Linked DNA regions of Homo sapiens. The protein of the gene in region 2 purifies or fractionates together with the protein of the main gene of each other region. This does not show direct contact. Each region holds a gene or a part of one and is shown on either strand. Other genes may lie near its edges.

Region 1 (4,274 bases), on a different chromosome or scaffold from region 2:
GCATTTGAAAGGCTGGTTATAGGTTTCCTTGACATAAGTTAGCCCCTTTAACAGTTGAAGTCTTATTTCTGGTCAAAGTTTTTGTTGTTTTGTTTTTTTGAGACGGAGTTTTCGCTCCTATGGCCCAGGCTGGAGTGTAATGACATGATCTTGGCTCACCGCAACCTCCGCCTCCTGGGTTTAAGCGATTTTCCTTTCTCGAGTAGCTGGGATTACAGACGCCCGCCACCACGCCCAGCTAATTTTTGTGTTTTTAGTAGAGATGGGGTTTCGCCGTGTTGGCCAGGCTGGTCTCGAACTCCTGACCTCAGGTAATCCATCTGCCTCGGCCTCCCAAAGTGTTGGGATTACAGGCATGAGACATCGCGCCGGTGTCTGGTCAAAGTTTTAACTGGACAAAGTGTTAACTGTCACAGGAATTTGATGTTGATTTTATTACTTACCGTACATTAAAGGCTCTTCGTGCATCTTAATTCATCTACTGTAAGGTAACTTAAGAGTATTGGTTCTTTCTCTCAGGGCCATGATCCAAAGGAACCAGAGCAGTTGAGAAAACTGTTTATTGGTGGTCTGAGCTTTGAAACTACAGATGATAGTTTACGAGAACATTTTGAGAAATGGGGCACACTCACAGATTGTGTGGTAAGTTACTAAGAGAACAGAAGGGTTCTAAGGGGTGTAGAGAACCGGTGGAGGTGTTTTCAACGTTATAAAACTTTTTATTTTGTAGGTAATGAGAGACCCCCAAACAAAACGTTCCAGGGGCTTTGGTTTTGTGACTTATTCTTGTGTTGAAGAGGTGGATGCAGCAATGTGTGCTCGACCACACAAGGTTGATGGGCGTGTAGTGGAACCAAAGAGAGCTGTTTCTAGAGAGGTATTTTAATAATACATTGTGTAATATGTGAAATTGTTGTGAAAGTTTGTTTCTTGACTTAATATATTACTTTATTTGTAGGATTCTGTAAAGCCTGGTGCCCATCTAACAGTGAAGAAAATTTTTGTTGGTGGTATTAAAGAAGATACAGAAGAATATAATTTGAGAGACTACTTTGAAAAGTATGGCAAGATTGAAACCATAGAAGTTATGGAAGACAGGCAGAGTGGAAAAAAGAGAGGATTTGCTTTTGTAACTTTTGATGATCATGATACAGTTGATAAAATTGTTGGTAAGTAGCAATTTATGGTAACTTGAATGAGAAAGTAGAACTGGTTTTTCTGTTTTGAACTAAATTTGCTAAATTGTAATTTTCTGTTGCGTGTAATGGCATTTATAGTGTATAGTCAATTTTCATAGTGTCTGCCTGTGTAATCAGTATCCAGATCAAGAAATAAACATAAACATCTCAGAATGCTCCTTCATTACCAGAGTCACTACCTGATTATGTCTTAATGGGTTACATAATGACAGAGGGTATCTCATATATGTGCTTTTCCAAACATAAAATAACTTTTTGTTTTGTTTGATTGAAAAAAAATTTAGTTCAGAAATACCACACTATTAATGGGCATAATTGTGAAGTGAAAAAGGCCCTTTCTAAACAAGAGATGCAGTCTGCTGGATCACAGAGAGGTGAGTAGGACCATACACATGTATACAGTGGATATGAGTGGTGTTTGTAAGGTTCTTAAAAATCTCCCTTGCCTGTATTAAAGGTCGTGGAGGTGGATCTGGCAATTTTATGGGTCGCGGAGGGAACTTTGGAGGTGGTGGAGGTAATTTTGGCCGTGGTGGAAACTTTGGTGGAAGAGGTAGGCTGTTTATCTTCTAAGTACATGGATACCTGACATTTTGGTAAGTTGAATATATTATTTTAATTCATTTCTTGTTTTTCCTCAGGAGGCTATGGTGGTGGAGGTGGTGGCAGCAGAGGTAGTTATGGAGGAGGTGATGGTGGATATAATGGATTTGGAGGTGATGGTAGGTGGCTTATTTTCATTGATGTTTGATATTTTAACTTTCTTTACTTATTGAAAATTATTTATTACACTTTTCTAATTTTAGTTAAAACTTCAGTGGCTAAATGGTTAAGGTGTATTTCCAAACTGTACATGGAAGAACAGGAACCCTTTTTCCCCTGGAGAGACATTAGCTGCTCTTTTTCAGCAAGTAGTAGGGGTTGAGCTAGAATTGTTCTATTAAGTCTGAGACTATATTTTTCTTAGTGAAATTTTGTAAAATGAAAACTGATTTTCTTTTTTACTATCAGAAGATGGGTTACACATTTATTTTTCATTCTTACTAGTGCAGATACTTGATACTCTATTATTATTAGGTATTACCAGGCTTCAGAGTGCTAAATCAATTCATTGGCTTATTTGCCAGTGGCTTAAATGTAATATAAAACCAGAGTTGAGTAATTCTAGCTATTCAGGAGGCTGAGGCAGAGGGGTTGCTTGAGGTGAGGATTTTGAGACTAGTCTGAGCAACATAAGGAGACCGTATATCTAGAAAAATAAAATAGGGGAACATGGTGGCACATGCCCATAGTCTAGCTACTCAGGAGACTGAGGTGGGAGAATGGCTTGAGCCCAGGAGTTCAAGGCTGCATTGCTGTGGTTGCACCACTGTACTTGAGCCCGGGCAACAGAGCAAGACCCAGTCTCTTACACACACACCAGAATTGAATAACGTGACTATACACTTAAGTTTTTGTGTGGTCTTGTTATTTGTTGTTTTTTTAGGTGGCAACTATGGCGGTGGTCCTGGTTATAGTAGTAGAGGGGGCTATGGTGGTGGTGGACCAGGATATGGAAACCAAGGTGGTGGATATGGTGGAGGTGGAGGATATGATGGTTACAATGAAGGAGGAAATTTTGGCGGTGGTAAGCATTCACTTGTTTTATTTAAATGTTAAATATTCAGTGTTGCTAACAGTTCCCATGACACATATTTGGAAAGTGTTAAAAGCGTTTGATCAAATTTTATGTTCTATAAGAAAAATACTAAAATGGTTGGTAGTTCAAACCAAATTTTCTTGACTTTGCTGGTTATTTAGTAAAATGTACAAATGTACTCAGCTCTCTTTTTTCTTTTTTTTTTTTTTTTTTTTTTTTTTTGAGATGGAGTCTTGCTCTGTTGCCCAGGCTGGAGTGCAGTGGCGTGATCTCAGCTCATTGCAATCTCCGCCTCCCGGGTTCATGCGATTCTCCTGCCTCAGCCTCCCTAGTAGCTGGGACTACAGGCGTATGCCAGCACGCCCGGTTAATTTTTTTGCATTTTTAGTAGAGATGGGGTTTCACCATGTTAGCCAGGATGGTCTCGATCTCCTGACCTTGTGATCTGCCCGCTTCTGCCTCCCAAAGTACTGGGATTACAGGCATGAGCCACTGCACTCAGCCAAATGTACTGAATTTTTAGTTGAGTAGTAAAAAATGGACATTTACCAGTATTCAGTACATGTTTTACGTGTAAAAGATTGGGAGTTTATTTATTGCCAAAATTTTACTTAACTCCTTGGTACTTTTAAACTGGACAACCGGGAATAAATTGTTTGAATACTCCAGACGTGTTGAAGTGAGCAGGTTGCCATCTAGGGCCCAGGTTAACAAAGTACTTTGGGTCTTAATATAATATGTCACAGGTAGTTGAAGCGTTTAAGCAAGCTAGTGTATGTAGGTCATTAAGCCACAATACTGTTAAAAGCTTTCTTAGGAATGCACTGTTTTATTGGACCTAATTAACATGTCAATGACAGATGAGTGGAAGTTTTAACAAGTTAGAATGCCTTCTCATTGTTTTAAATGTTATACTGCTTCAGAATCATAGTGAATGGAACACTGGCAATTTTAATGGTGTTAATGGTAGAGAGAACATGCGCCTAGAGGACAGCATTTAATATAAACAAAATGTTGATGGTCTTTTAATATCCTGACATCAGTTACCCCAAGTGGTGCTACCACAGTGATGTGTATAAGCATGCTACCATAATTCTCAAAAGATAATAGTTACATACGTTAAAAGGGGAAAATGATGATTGTGTAGGTAAACCACACATAAAACCTTTCTGATTTCAGGTAACTATGGTGGTGGTGGGAACTATAATGATTTTGGAAATTATAGTGGACAACAGCAATCAAATTATGGACCCATGAAAGGGGGCAGTTTTGGTGGAAGAAGCTCGGGCAGTCCCTATGGTGGTAAGTACTTTCTTAAATCAATTCTTTAGAGCCTTTTTAATTTAAAAAATGTGCATACTTCTTTTAAAATACTATGTATATTTTCAGGTGGTTATGGATCTGGTGGTGGAAGTGGTGGATATGGTAGCAGAAGG
Region 2 (5,444 bases):
TGTGGGGGAAGGGACCATCCCTGGGGGCGGGTAGAGGGGAGGACAAGGACTGGGTCATTGTCCCTATCTGCCCTGGCTAATGTCCGTACATGAGCTGCAAGGTACCGGGCCAGGAGCTGGGATGGGCTGGGGAGGAGGCTTGACAGAAATATGGGCGGACAACTGCGAGAGGGACCACACACATGCTCGCGGGGACCCCAGAGACCCCTGATGGACACACCCATACGGGTATGTCCACGGGCACCAGGCACACACGTGTGCATCAGGCACTTGCCCTGCACCTCTGCACCCGGAGCACGTCATCCTGGTGGGGGTGTGGACAGCGGTGCTGGGCACCCTGGGGCTTGGGGGCAGCGCACGCCCCAGGGAAAGTGCAGTGACAGAGCCCCCGGCCTCCCCAATACTGTCCGGGCTCCCCTGGCCTCTCCCCCTTCTTGGTGCCTCTGCCTCTCCCTCTGCTTGTCTGCAGGTTTGTCCCACGATGCCCCACACTCAGTGGAGATGGCAGGTGGGCCCAGACCTCAGAGTGGGTTTCAAGGCTCATGGGCTGGAGAGTGGGGGTTCCAAGTTTGCAGGACAGGAGCGCACCCCTACTCTGGAAACCTTATCTCTGAGGTCTCAGAATGGGGGATGAGGAGGGCTCCAATGGGCCCCTGTGGAATGTCCTATCAGACCCCAGGACTTAGCCCCAGTCGGGGGACAGAACTGTGGCCTTAGAGGGGCGCCAGGAGGAGGGCAAGCAGGATGTGGCCTTGGGCTGGGTGTGCTGGTGTGGGGCTCTCTGGAGTGTGGCCTCTGTGCCAGACGCCTGTGCCTTGGCCGTCCTACAGCCCTGCTGCCCCTGCCCTCTCCCCAAGCTGGGGACTGGTGGCAGACAGGGCAGGGCAGGCGGCTTCTCTTCCTCTAAGTGCAGGCCTCGAGGTGCCGACAGGGGTGCGGTAGGATTCAGGGAAAGTGAGGTTGGGATCACAGGTGCAGTTAGGGCTCAGGGCCCGACAGCGGTAGGCCAGCGGCTCCTGGGGCCCAGGAGGATGGTCTCCAGCGCCCCCAGCGGGGACAGGGCCAGCACAGGCCCAGTGGAGATCGAGGGGAGATAAGGACGCTGGTTAACATGGCTGACAGGAGGGATGGTGGGTGGGGAGGAAGGGCAGCACCGCCCTTGTGCTGTGGGAGCTCCCAGGGAGCTCCATGCAGCATGGAGGTGAAGGGCCTGCAGAGAGAGGGCTCCCCTGCTCAGTGACAGGAGAGGGGGCTGACAGTGACCTGGGCTCCCTTCCTGAGGCTGGCCAGTCAGCTAGAGGGCTGACCCCAAAGCCCGAGGCCAGCGCAGCCCCCTTGGCCCTCCTGAATCTGGGGGGCGGGTGAGGCGGGACAGACTCCGCCTGGCACCGGGACCATCCTCCGCCTCAACTTTGCAGCGTACTTGGACCGCTCTGGCCGCCCTGGGCGCTACCCGCAGAGATAAGGGCCCCTCCCTGCGCCCGGTCCGGGCATCTCCGAGCCGGCCTGGGGGTGGCTGAACTCTCTTTTGCCGGCCGAAACCCCAGCCCCCGCAGCCCCCGCAGCCGATCGGTCCTCAAGCTACAGCTCCCCTCTCTGGGAGTCCCCGCTTTTGAATTCCCCGGGGATGTTCCCGCTGCGGTCCGATGGACCTCCCAGAGCAGCGGAGGTCAGGGGAGCTAGCAGAGGCGGGGACGTCCCTTGGGAGTGAGGGGACTGACAGGGGCGGCCTCGTAACCCTGCGTGGGATGGAAGGTCAGAGTGGGTTCCTCGGTGGGGGGCAACAGCGGGGGCTCTCCGGCAATTGTCCCCGACCCTCCGTCCTGGGGAGGGCAGGATCAGCGCGCGGGCTGCTTTGCATCTCTTTGCATTTTAGTGATGTTTGGTCCAGTCCTGGCCCGGGCAGATCTGGGGTTCGGGCGGGTGCCGGTGGGGTAGGGCTGGGGGTGGGAGCGGCGTTTCCTGCTGCGGGTGAGCCTTTTGCCTCGGAACTGGACCCGGGAGACATCACAGCGCTGGGCTAGGGGCGCGGCTTGAACTCGCCTAAAGAGCTGCGCCCTCTCAGTAAGTCCCCATGGCCCCCTGCCCCCCCGCGCTCCGTCCTCAGTCAGGCCCGGGTCCTGCCTGAAGGCGGGGGTGGACCAGATGATCTTTCTTGGGCCCTGGGCCTAGATTCGAGGTCCCCAGGGTCCAAGTCCTGGGTTCAGAGGGCGGGGCGCGAGGGGCGGGGTCTCCAAGGGGCGGGGTCCCGGGGTCCCTGAAAGGCGCGGACCAGGCCGGATCCACCCAGTCTCGCGCCTGCAGCCCGTGCCGCCCCAGCCGCTGCCGCCTGCACCGGACCCGGAGCCGTCATGCCCAAGTGTCCCAAGTGCAACAAGGAGGTGTACTTCGGTGAGCGCGCCCACACCGGCCCCGCGAGGAGGCGCCGCCGACGGGGCGACGAGGCTGGGGACCGCTCAGGAGGACCGGGGGCGCTGGGTCCCTGGGGCGGCGCCCCAGCCTGAAAACGCCTCAGCCTGGCCCGCCGCCTGCCCCGGGATGAGGGTGGAGGCCCCTGCGTCCGAGGGCCCTGGCGATCTCTGCCTGCTAGTGGTCTTGCTGTGCTCGGCGGGCTACCTCTGGCTCTGAGCCTCCCCGTCTCTGGGTCCTACGGTCTCTGCCGTTTCCTCTCAGGCGCGCCCTGAGTGGGGGACCCGCAGGGCTGGAAGGAACGCGGGGCTGGGGCCGCGCCCCCCAGCGCTAAGTGGAAACAGACGCGGAAACCGACGCCCGGGGCGCGATCCCGGGCGCCCGCCTCCCTGCCCCGCGCCCGCGCGCCCCGAGGGGAGGGAGGAAGTGGGAAGTCACCCCTGTCCCCGCCGAGAAGGGCTGTCGCAGGCTCCACCCTTGCCACCGCAGAGGCCCGGGGCTGAAAGCAGGCAGCCAGGCCCAGGCCCTGCTGACCTAAGCCGCGACCCCTGACCCTCGGCCTCGCCCTCTAGCCCCACCCAGCCTTCAGGAGCAAGATTCCCGGCCGCACCCGAAAGTGCCCCGGGGACCAGCGACCCCGCGCTTTGTTTAGTTGTATTGGCTCTGGGGATTGGAGATGTTCCCCTCATGGAGGGTGCTGAGACCTTAGGGTGGGCTGCCAGGCTGGGCGGATGCGGGCTAAGTGCACAGGGCCTTGGGCAGAGCTGGCTGCAAGAGGCGGGTACGCCAGTGGTGGGTAGGCGCCGCGTCCTGCAGCGTCTCACCGGGGCCTGTCTGTGCCTCTGCAGCCGAGAGGGTGACCTCTCTGGGCAAGGACTGGCATCGGCCCTGCCTGAAGTGCGAGAAATGTGGGAAGACGCTGACCTCTGGGGGCCACGCTGAGGTAGGTGGGACCCACCCTGGTGGCAGGGGCCAGGGGTGATGGCACCCCCTCACGGCCCTTCTCTTTGCAGCACGAAGGCAAACCCTACTGCAACCACCCCTGCTACGCAGCCATGTTTGGGCCTAAAGGTATGCTCCCGTCATCCCCACCCCACCCCACCCCACAGCCTCCTCCACCCCAGCCTGTTGACTTTTTCCACCTTCTCTGCAGGCTTTGGGCGGGGCGGAGCCGAGAGCCACACTTTCAAGTAAACCAGGTAGGTAGGACCCCACCCCCTATCCTGCCTCCTGGTTCCACCCTCGGGATGGGGATGCCCCCTCCCAGGGAGGCCTGACCACTCGTGGGCCCCAAAGGAGGCCGTGGACGCTGCACTCACGTCTGTGCCTGTCTCTCTCTGCACAGGTGGTGGAGACCCCATCCTTGGCTGCTTGCAGGGCCACTGTCCAGGCAAATGCCAGGCCTTGTCCCCAGATGCCCAGGGCTCCCTTGTTGCCCCTAATGCTCTCAGTAAACCTGAACACTTGGAAAACCTGTGTGTGTACATGCGCGTGTGTGCTGGGGAGTGCCAAGGGAGCTGCAGTGGGGTCCTGGCAGCAGGCTCTGCCACCGGCGCCTGCTCTTCTGCTGCCCATTGCCCTCCCCAGGGGGCCGTTCCAGGGTCTCATAGGCGAGGGCTCCCTGTGCAGGGTGAGTCCAGGCCACCCTAGACAGCCCGCACCCAGCCCTGGCACTCTGAGTCCGCCTCGACAACTCCCAGATCCTCAGAAGTGCCTCTGAGCCCTCCTGGCCTTCTGGGAGTGGGGAAGGGGGGCTTTGCAGGCCACCAGCCAAAGGCTCAGCAGGCCGAGAGGCCTGGGGGCGGGCGAGGCTGGCCTCGGGTCAGAGGGTGAATCAGCTCATGCTGGCTCCCTTTCTGAGAGGCTCTGGGGGAGTTATGGGAACTCCTGGCCTTCCTCCTTTCCACCCCCCAACCCTGTCCTCATTCCCCACCCCTCCAGGCCAGGCCCAGCTTCTGCAAGGGCCTGATGAGGCTGCTCTGCCCCTGACCCAGGCACCACTGCCCCATGTGCGTCCTCATCTGCCATCTACCCTGTGCCCAGGGACTTACCCAGTGGCCCGGCGTCCAGTGGGGAACTTGAGTACCGGCCGTGCACAGGGGCTGGGGGGCCTTCTGGAAACTCCCTTGTCAACTCAGCCAGCCGCTGCTGACTGGCCACCTTCAGAGACCCTCTTCCCCACACTGGCTACTTAGATACCGGCCTTGGCAGAAGGCCACCCCTCCGGACACCCACTGGTTTAAAAGAGCCCAGGGGTCTGGCCCTGCCTTAGGGCTGTGGTGGGTGTGCTGCAGGCTCAGCTCGACAGGTGCTGTGGGGGCAGTCTAGGGTGGCCCGCAGGGTGGGGTGTGTGGGGGTGATTGGGGGATTCCTGGAATTCCAAGAGCTGGGAGCCACAGCACTTTTGATGGGATGGGGGCAGGGGGTGCTGAGGTGAGGCTGGTTTCTGGCTGGACGGTGGTGGGTGGAGCTGAGGGAACTGAGATCTTTGAGACAGCGACACCTGGTGCAGAGAAAAATCCGCAAGCTCGGGGGTTGGGAGAGCGCTGAACAAGGCCGCAGAGCTGCTCCGCCATCTCCCCCACGCCTCCTGCCAAGTTCTGTGGCGCCGCGGTTCCCCACCTCCTGCTCCCATCCCCCTGGCTCCCGCCGCCCTGTAGCTCGGCAGGTGCAGTAGGCGCTCCGAGGAGGAGGCCCCTTAGCTTCAAGAAACCCGCGTGGGCGGGGTGAGGAGCGCAGTCCTCCTACTGGCGCCGTGAAGGAGATCGCGATGCGCCGGAGGGAAGGAGGCTGCGGGCGGGGAAGGACGGAGGGCGTGCGGGGAGGGAGAGGAGGGGCTTGCTGGGGGGGGGGCCCCGAGGCGGGGCCGGGAGGGCCGCCTGGAAGAGGAGGTCGGGGGCGAAGGAGGCCGAGAAGAAAGGTGGGGCCGGGACCCCTCGGGCTGCGCCTCTCGTGGGCGTGTCCAGCCAGGGCTGGGGGTCCAGGGAGGACTGAGTTTCCCTCTCCCGCCGTCCTCGCAGCCCCGGGAGGTGCAG
Region 3 (4,274 bases), on a different chromosome or scaffold from region 2:
TTTCAATACAATGAGAGCTCTCAGAGAGGTGGAGGCTTTCCTTATTTATCTTTGGGTCCCCAAAGCCTAGCACTTGCCTGGCGTGTTGAGTTCCTCCGCATCTGCGTCATTGAATTAAGTGGCTGAGTCTCGGGGGTGGAGGGGACTGGACAGGCTTCCTGGTCCTGAGAAGTCTTTCAAGAGGCCTTCAGGGCAGGCAGGCCAGGTTCCCTGCTGTTAACTGTTACCTGCTGCCTTCCCCTGTCATTCAGATGCCCAGGACAGGCCAGGGTCCCCTGGAGAGTGTATGCGCCATGGCCCCTGGCCTTGGGGAACACTCACCGTTGACCCAGCAGGTGGTTGGCACTCAGACAGTCATTGCTGCCCAAACCACCAGCAGCAAAGACAGAGCAGAATTAAACAGAGCTGTCAGCCCTGTTCAGTGAGAGGAAGAGTAGGTGGGTTTGTTTAAAACACTCCCATTACAGTCAGTTAACCTTTATGTTCCCTAAATGAAAATTGTATAAACCTGAGATTTCCGTTGATCGGGTTGCCTAGGAACAGGCAGCAGGTTTTCATAAGACAATGCAGTAGATTGTCACCGATAGGGCTATTAGGAAGTGAGCTGGTTAGCGGTATTATTCCCCTTGCTGGTGTTGGCTTTGGGTAATTATCTGTCTGCCTGTGCGAGACACGCCCATCTTCCTAGGCTTGGGGCAGGTTCATGCAAATGAGATTTCTCAGCCTGCTCCTCTGGAGTCCTGAAGCCAGTTTTCACCCCTGGGCTTAGGAGAGAAACCTAAAAGAGCCAATTTGGATGAGTTTGTTGTTTTCAATCACCTTTCCCCCCTACCTGCAATGACAATATTCTAATAGCCCTATCAGTGACAGTCTATTGCATTATCTTACAAAAACCTGCTCCCTGTTGCTTAGCAGAAAGCTTAGAAAATAACTAGCAAAATGCCCAATTAAAATTTAAAAACAGAGTGATTCTAAGACAACTTTAGTATGTCTTTTCAGTATTTTTCCCTATATGATATATGCACTTGTTTATTTTTCAAAAAGTCAGTGACATTTGCTGTTTTCCCGCTTGCAGTTAAAGAAACCCATCATCCTGGTTTGCCTGGGACTGAGGGGTTTCCCAGTACCAGTGCATGATTATTATCAACACACTTTTTCATAGCTGCATAGCATTCAATCAGTGTGGATAATCCAAACTCAGCTAATTCCCTGTTCTTCTATATTTTAGGTATTTCCTTTTATTAAAAAAAAAAATTCTAATTCCGGTAGGGCAAATTCCTAGAGGTAAGATTACTAGGTGTATGTATAAATTTATGGCTTTTGATGTAGTGTCTGGTTGCCCTCCAGAAAAATACGTGCCAATTTCCACCCCTCCACACTATACCGTCAGAAACCCTTACATCAAACAATGCTTTCATCACTGTCAATCTGTGGGCAAAAAATATGCTTCATCTTGGGGAATGTGTTCTTTATTAGCCGTCTGTGAATTGTCTACTCCTGTCTTTTACCCATGTCTGTTTTGGGATGCTCATCTCTTTTAATCTATAGAACTCTGTATTAAGCATATTAGTCATGAATGTTGAACCATTTTGTCCACTTTTTAAGGCATTTGTGGTTATTCTTGAAAGAGCAAGAGTAATACCTGTTGTCCGGTGTCTTTGAAGAAAGGTGACTTATATCTTAGGTAATTATAGCATCCCCCTAACCTTGAGCACTAAAATATTTTTTGATTGAAGTATTTGGGATGTGAGTATCTCCAAAATGGATAACCCATAGAGGTTCCTTTTTTATTTTCGTTTTATTTATTTTTTTTATTTTTTGAGATAGAGTCTCGCTCTGTCGCCCAGGCTGGAGTACAGTGGTGCGATCTCGGCTCACTACACCCTCCACCTCCCGGGTTCAAGCGATTCTTCTGCCTTAGCCTCCCAAGTAGCTGGGATTACAGGAGCATGCCACCACACCTGGCTAATTTTTTTGTATTTTTAGTAGAGACAGGGTTTTGCCACGATAGCCAGGCTGGTCTCGAACTCCTGGACTCAAGCAGTCTGCCTGCCTTAGCCTCCCAAAGTGTTGGGATTACAGGTGTGAGCCACCACGTCCGGCCTAGAGGTCTCTGTTTAAACAATGTATATTGCACACAGTTTAACTTTTTCTTGCTATCTCAGGCACACCTGTGAACAATAGCAATTTTCTGTGTTACAGTGATACCTCAGCAGCTGTTGAACTATGTAGAGCTTTTGTTCCTATACCATATGGCCCAGACTGCTCTTTAAATAAGATACCTGTTTCTTGTCTTTTCTCCGTCATTTAAATAAGATACCTGTTTCTTGTCTTTTCTCCGTCACTATCAGGCGGCCATGCTGTTTCTTTTGGCTGTTAAAAGCATCCGTGCCTTACCCTGCAACATCCCATCTTCATCAGCAGTGGGATTGATGACTGGCTAACAATGCTTGTTAAATTTCTCTGTAAACAAAAAGCAAATAAGTGCTAATAAGCACAGGCCTAAGGCGCTCTGGTAAAACAGTGAAGGAGCTTCCGAGGGCCACAGTTTTACTTATTCCCTGAGGTTTATAGTTCGCATAGTTAAGGTTATTAAATAAGTGACCTCTGGGTATACAAGCAGATTAGCATGAAGAAATTTGAGAGTCAGAAGGGAAACAGAAAGGGGAGATTAGCAACCACTTGAAAATGTAGCTGCAAATGAGAAACTAGTAATCCAGATGAACAGAATCAGTGTTTAATCTTATTACTTCCCTCAGGAGTGTGGTGGTGGTGTAGGTTTTGTGGAAATGTGGCATTGCTGACCTAGAAATTCTAAAGATCTGGTTTGTAGGCCTGAACCTGTTGGGGAGGGCTTTCAGCATGTTGCACAAGAATTTTTTTTTTTTTTTTTTTTTAAGACAGGGTCTCGCTGTGTCACCCAGGCTGGAGTGCAGTGGCGTGATCATGGCTCACTGCAGCCTTGACCTCCCAGACTCAGGTGATCCCCCTACCTCAGCCTCCCAGGTAGCTGGGACTACAGGTGTGTGCCACCACACCTGCCTAGTTTTTTGTATTTTTTTAGTACAGACGGGGTTTCACCATGTTGCCAGGCTGATCTGAAACGCCTGGGCTCAAGCTGATTCACCTGCCTCCACCTCCCACAGTGCTGGGATTACAAACATGATCCCCCACGCCCAGCCAACACAAAACTTCTGATGCTCTGTTTTCTCATCTGTGAACTGGAGCTAAGGCTAAGTGGTCTGTCTGTTTAATAAGAGTTTGAATCAGATGGCCTGGCATGAAGAGTCACTGGCCTGAGAGAATGTCAGGGGCATTTGTAAATGTGTAAAGGGCTGAAAAATCCTGAGGGATTATTATTATTGCTATTGTTGTTATTATTCACAGACACATCCAACAGCCATTGTCTGCCTCCTTATCTGTCATGCTTTCTGCACGAGCGTCAGCCTGAGCTTCAATCTGTGTGTATATCTGCAGCTTACGTCCTTGCCACCCCTCCAGAACCCAGTTTCATCCTTGTAGGTTTTTCCGAAGCAGGATTTGCACAAGTGGCGTGTTTTCTTAAGTATTTATTTTGCAGGCCATTTACTCGGCATGGCTATTTTTACAGTGGGTAAGGAGCAAGGCTAAAAATAACTTAGCTCATAACCAGACAGGTTCTGCATTTGACATTTACGTGGAATTCATTTGCATCTCATTTGTTCGCCTTTCTGTTTAACAGGTAGAATGTAAGAAAGCTCAGCCGAAAGAAGTCATGTTCCCACCTGGGACAAGAGGCCGGGCCCGGGGACTGCCTTACACCATGGACGCGTTCATGCTTGGCATGGGGATGCTGGGTGAGTCTGGACAGGACCGCAGGTCACCATGGACTGGGAGGGCTATGGAGGCCTCTACTCCCAACTGGGTCACCTACCAGTGGGGCAAACTGCTTCACCTTTCTAAGCCTCAGTTTCCTTGTCTGTAGATGAGGATGATAATTCCCCGTTCCAAGACAGTTGTGATGATTAAGTGTGGGTGTGTGTGTGTGCATGCATGTGTGTGTGTGTGTGTGTGTGTTTGTATTTATAATATTGCCCCATGCCTGGCTTATAGGATATGTTAGACTATTTTCTCTCTTTTCCATCTCCTTCCTCAAAAGAAGGAAAAGTCCCCCTCTATCTGCCTCAGCCCTCTCATCTGAGTGGGAGTTCTTAAGATGTAAGGACTCCTGGCTGACTTGACTTGTGTGGGCTAAGGCTACGTTTTCTAAAACTTGGGAGAGGAGGGAAGTGGTA
Region 4 (4,274 bases), about 42 Mb from region 2:
ATGGAGAAACCCCATCTCTACTAAAAATACAAAATTAGCCGGGCATGGAGGCGCATGCCTGTAATCCCAGCTACTTGGGAGGCTGAGGCAGGAAAATGGCTTGAACCCGGAAGGCAGAGGCTGTGGTGAGCCGAGATCGCACCATTACACTCCAGCCTGGGCAACAAGAGCTAAACTCCGTCTAGTCATCATAGTTGTAAGAATATCTAAAAGTGAATGTACAAACTATCTGCAAAATGCCTCGGAAATGTATAATGAATTGTGAGACAAGAAATAACAATGGCGGCCGGGCGCGGTGGCTCATGCCAAGAATCCCAGCACTTTGGGAGGCCTAGGCAGGCGGACGCACCTGTGGTCAGGAGTTCGAGACCAGCCTGGCCAACATGGAGAAACCCCGTCTCTACTAAAAATATAAAAATCAGCCGGATGTGGTGGCAGACACCTGTAATCCCAGCTACTCTCCGCAGGCTGAGGCAGGAGAATCACTTGAACCTGGGAGGCAGAGGTTGCAGTGAGCCGAGATTGCGCCACTGCACTCCAGCCTGGGTGACAGAGCGAGACTCTGTCTCAGAAAAACAAACAAACAAAAGAAATAACAATGCTACTTTCACTATAATTCCATCTTCAAAGAGGCAGTATTCTTCAGAAAACGTTCACCCAAATCTAAACTTACAGAATTGCTTAAAGTCAACGCAAGGAAATGAGGCACAGGAGGCTGGGGTGAGGAGAGAACATAAATCACCCAGCCAGGTGCTACTACCACTGATTATTATTAACATAAATTTGTGTGTGTGTTTGTGTGTTTGCCTAACTGTTTAGTTTGACTGTCTTACTCAACAACTTACCTAGATAACAGTCAAGGCTTGCTTCATGTCCTGCTGTGTAAGTGTAAGGAAAGTATCCAAGTCTTGACTTTCTTTTTTTTTTTAAGACAGAGTTTATAGTGGCACAATATGAGCTCACTGCAACCTCCACCTCCCGGGGTCAAGTGATTCTCCTGCCTCAGCCTCCTGAGTAGCTGGGATTATAGATGCACACCACTACATCCACGAATTTTTGGATTTTTAGCAGAGATGGGGTTTTACCCTGTTGGCCAGGCTGGTCTCAAACTCTTGACCTCAAATGACCCGCCCCCTGTCGGCCTCCCCCAAGATTTTACTTTCTTATCAAGTAAGTAAGGCACTAAACCTCTACTAGGTTTTCCCTATCAGTGAATGAGTAAGAATCTTTTAGACTCAAAGAAAAAAATGTTTTTATTTTGAGACAAAGGTCTCACTCTGTCAGCCACACTGGACACAGTGGAACAATCACAGCTCACTGCAGCCTCAGCCTCCTGGGCTCGGGCAATCCTTCTGCCTCAGCCTCCCAAGTAGCTGGGACCACAGGTGTACACCACCACCCTGGCTAATTTTTTAAATTATTTGTACAGATGAGGTCTCACTATGTTGCGTAGGCTGGTCTCAAACTCTTGGGCTTAAGCGAGCCTCCCAACTCTGTCTCCCTATGTGCTGGGATTATAGGTGTGAGCCACCATACCCAGCCTCAAAAATGTTAAGGCTCTCCAAGAACACTTTCACAAAAGCATATAAAGATGGAGAAAATGTAAATGTCTATCTTTGCAAAGTTCATCCTATAATTTCCTAACACACAGATACGGAAAAACCAGGTAGATTTATACAGAATTACAGGTGGTGTTGCTTTCTACAGGAAATAACATCAGTGATACAGATTTCAAAACCCCACCTATTAGACATAGGGCAAAATAGGCTGGGCGCAGTGACTGACGCCTGTAATCCCAGCACTTTGGGAGGCCAAGGCAGGTGGATCACCTGAGGTCAGGAGTTTGAGACCAGCCTGGCTGGTCTCAACACGTCTCTACTAAAAATACAAAAAAATTAGCTTGGTGTGGTGGTGGGCACCTGCAATCCCAGCTACTCAGGAGCCTGAGGCAAGAGAATCACTTGAACCAAGAGGCAGAGGTTGCAGTGAGCTGAGATCGCACCACTGTACTCCAGCCTGGGCAACAAGAGCAAAACTCCATCTCAAAAAAAAAAGAAATAGGGCAAAACAAAAACTTTCCCTTCACATTATGTTGCAGTTTTGCAAGTGAACAGACTTTAAAACGCTAAGAATTAATGCAGTATTATTTATAAATCAAAGATTATGATGCATATAATAAACATTCTGATAATGCATGCACAAAACGAGTGGTTATTAATGCATATCTGAGCATTCAAAAATGACATATTAAAAGATGAGTTACATAATCACTGTTTGTATAATTATCGTATTCAAACTCCCCTGAAATTAAAGACCTTAAGGACACCTCTTTGACTTCATTATTTAAAACAACTCACAAAATTCAACCATATTTTATATTGTACTCCAAATAAAATTAACCCAATTTAGTCAAAGCAATACTATAGAAAATTAAATCAATAACTACCCTTAGCATGCATATAGTGTTTATCCTGGTTTCTCTTAAGGCAATGGCCAAAAAAAATAAAATCCTAGAAAAGAAATTCCTCCTACATTTTCTTTATATTCCATAAATTACTTCCTAGAAAATCAAGAGCAAATACACATTACTGAAGTCTATTTCTGATTATACTTCCTTATGTTATTCTACAGACAGAGATGGATTTCTAATTTATAGAATACTTTCCAGAGTATTTACCCAGAATGTGCTTACTACATAACAATCACTGTTAGTCACTCTGGAATTAGGTTTGTGAGTATATAGTCCTGTTACTCTCCAATTCTCTCATACTGGCAAAATATACAAGTTCAAAAAATCACATTCTTGGAAAGCAGAGTTCTTGGAAAACTGGCAACACTAGCAGACTTCACTTTTAAAAGTGAGAAAAAGGATACAGAAATGGCCAAAAAGCACAGGAAAAGATGCTCAACATCACTAATCATTAGGGCAATGCAAATAAAAATCACACTGAAATACCACTTCATACCTATTATAATGACTACTATCAAAAAATTAAAAAGCAGAAAATGAGTGATGGTGAGGATATAGAAAACTGGAACCCTCATGCATTGCTAATGGGAATGAAAAATGGTCCAGTTGCTGTGGCAATATGTATGGCAATTCCTGAAAAATTCAACATATGATCCAGCAATTACACGTCTGGGTACATACCCAAAAGAAATGAAAGCCAGAACTTAAACAGGTATCTGTACATCATGGTCACAGCAGCATTATTCACAATAGCCTGAAGGTGGAAGCAACCCAAGTGTCCACCAATGAATTAATGGATTAAAAAGTATATGGTATGTATATACACTGAAATTATTCAGCCTTAAAAAAGAATGAAATTCTGACACCTGCTACAACAGAGATGAACACTGAAGACACTTGACTAAGTGAAATAAGCCAGTCACAAAAAGACAAATATTGCATGGCATCACTTATAGGAGGTACCTAGAGTAGTCAAATTCATAGAAACAAAAAACAGAATGGCGGTTGCCAAGGGCTGGTGGGGGAAACAGGGAGTCAGTGTTTAACAGGTACAGAGCTTCAGTTGGGGAAGATGAAAAGGTTCTGGAGATGGATGGTAGGGACAGTTGCATGACAATGTCAAGGCACTTAATGCACATTTAAACATGGTTAAGATGGTAAATTTCATGTTATGTATATTTTACCATAATTTTTTAAAATGAGAAAAAAGACATGAAAGCATTAAAGAAAAAATACATTAAAGCATGTGTCCAAATTCTTCTCATGCATGCTTCTTTCACTACCCACAAAACCAATACCCTGACTATGAGTGGTCAGTGAAGTCCTAATTTAATTGTTTACCATAAGATCCAAGAAATTAGTGTAAGTTTTTAAATTCCTTCTAATTCTAAAAAAAAAAATTTAACTGGCTTCCTCAGAATGAAGTCCTTTACAGATACAGAAGTTAACACCCATTACATATCTACTTCAGATTAAATAGATTACTAAAAACCAGTGTCTCCCAACTTTGTATTTCAAGCATAGTTCAATCTACAGTGTTTCCTACATTTTCTTTCCAAAGCCTCATAATGACTATTTTCATTTTTACCAGCAAAATCTCTAGTCAAAATTTTCTCCCCCAAAGCTCACAGGAGCTCATCTTTACTGACTGGTAGATATATCATCTTTACAGTAATCAGTATTCAGTTTCCAAAAATTTTGTATAAACATTGGAATCTTATTTATGAATCTCTCTCTCTTTTTTAAAAAAAGTATTCATATGGAAAAAATAGAAGCTTGAAATATCCTAAGCTAAATTTTGAGG

The links.
Region 1: the proteins of CRIP1 (region 2) and HNRNPA3 fractionate together in Homo sapiens (co-fractionation; one large-scale study listed by BioGRID). This does not show direct contact.
Region 3: the proteins of CRIP1 (region 2) and MSI2 fractionate together in Homo sapiens (co-fractionation; one large-scale study listed by BioGRID). This does not show direct contact.
Region 4: the proteins of CRIP1 (region 2) and PPP2R5E purify together in Homo sapiens (affinity purification with mass spectrometry; 2 studies listed by BioGRID and IntAct, with this or other methods). This does not show direct contact.

The regions. Positions count from the first base shown.
Region 1 is NC_000002.12:177,215,020-177,219,293, forward strand, and holds part of HNRNPA3 (heterogeneous nuclear ribonucleoprotein A3), read left to right. Parts: intron 1-519; coding exon 520-642; intron 643-730; coding exon 731-877; intron 878-958; coding exon 959-1,169; intron 1,170-1,483; coding exon 1,484-1,573; intron 1,574-1,656; coding exon 1,657-1,752; intron 1,753-1,840; coding exon 1,841-1,921; intron 1,922-2,685; coding exon 2,686-2,826; intron 2,827-4,017; coding exon 4,018-4,140; intron 4,141-4,227; coding exon 4,228-4,274. UniProt on the Homo sapiens protein: Plays a role in cytoplasmic trafficking of RNA. Binds to the cis-acting response element, A2RE. May be involved in pre-mRNA splicing.
Region 2 is NC_000014.9:105,484,909-105,490,352, forward strand, and holds CRIP1 (cysteine-rich protein 1), read left to right. Parts: upstream 1-1,977; 5' UTR 1,978-2,064; intron 2,065-2,290; 5' UTR 2,291-2,351; coding exon 2,352-2,391; intron 2,392-3,257; coding exon 3,258-3,352; intron 3,353-3,422; coding exon 3,423-3,480; intron 3,481-3,562; coding exon 3,563-3,603; 3' UTR 3,604-3,608; intron 3,609-3,754; 3' UTR 3,755-4,039; downstream 4,040-5,444. UniProt on the Homo sapiens protein: Seems to have a role in zinc absorption and may function as an intracellular zinc transport protein.
Region 3 is NC_000017.11:57,612,249-57,616,522, forward strand, and holds part of MSI2 (RNA-binding protein Musashi homolog 2), read left to right. Parts: intron 1-3,721; coding exon 3,722-3,836; intron 3,837-4,274.
Region 4 is NC_000014.9:63,533,378-63,537,651, forward strand, and holds part of PPP2R5E (serine/threonine-protein phosphatase 2A 56 kDa regulatory subunit epsilon isoform), read right to left. Parts: intron 1-4,274. UniProt on the Homo sapiens protein: The B regulatory subunit might modulate substrate selectivity and catalytic activity, and might also direct the localization of the catalytic enzyme to a particular subcellular compartment.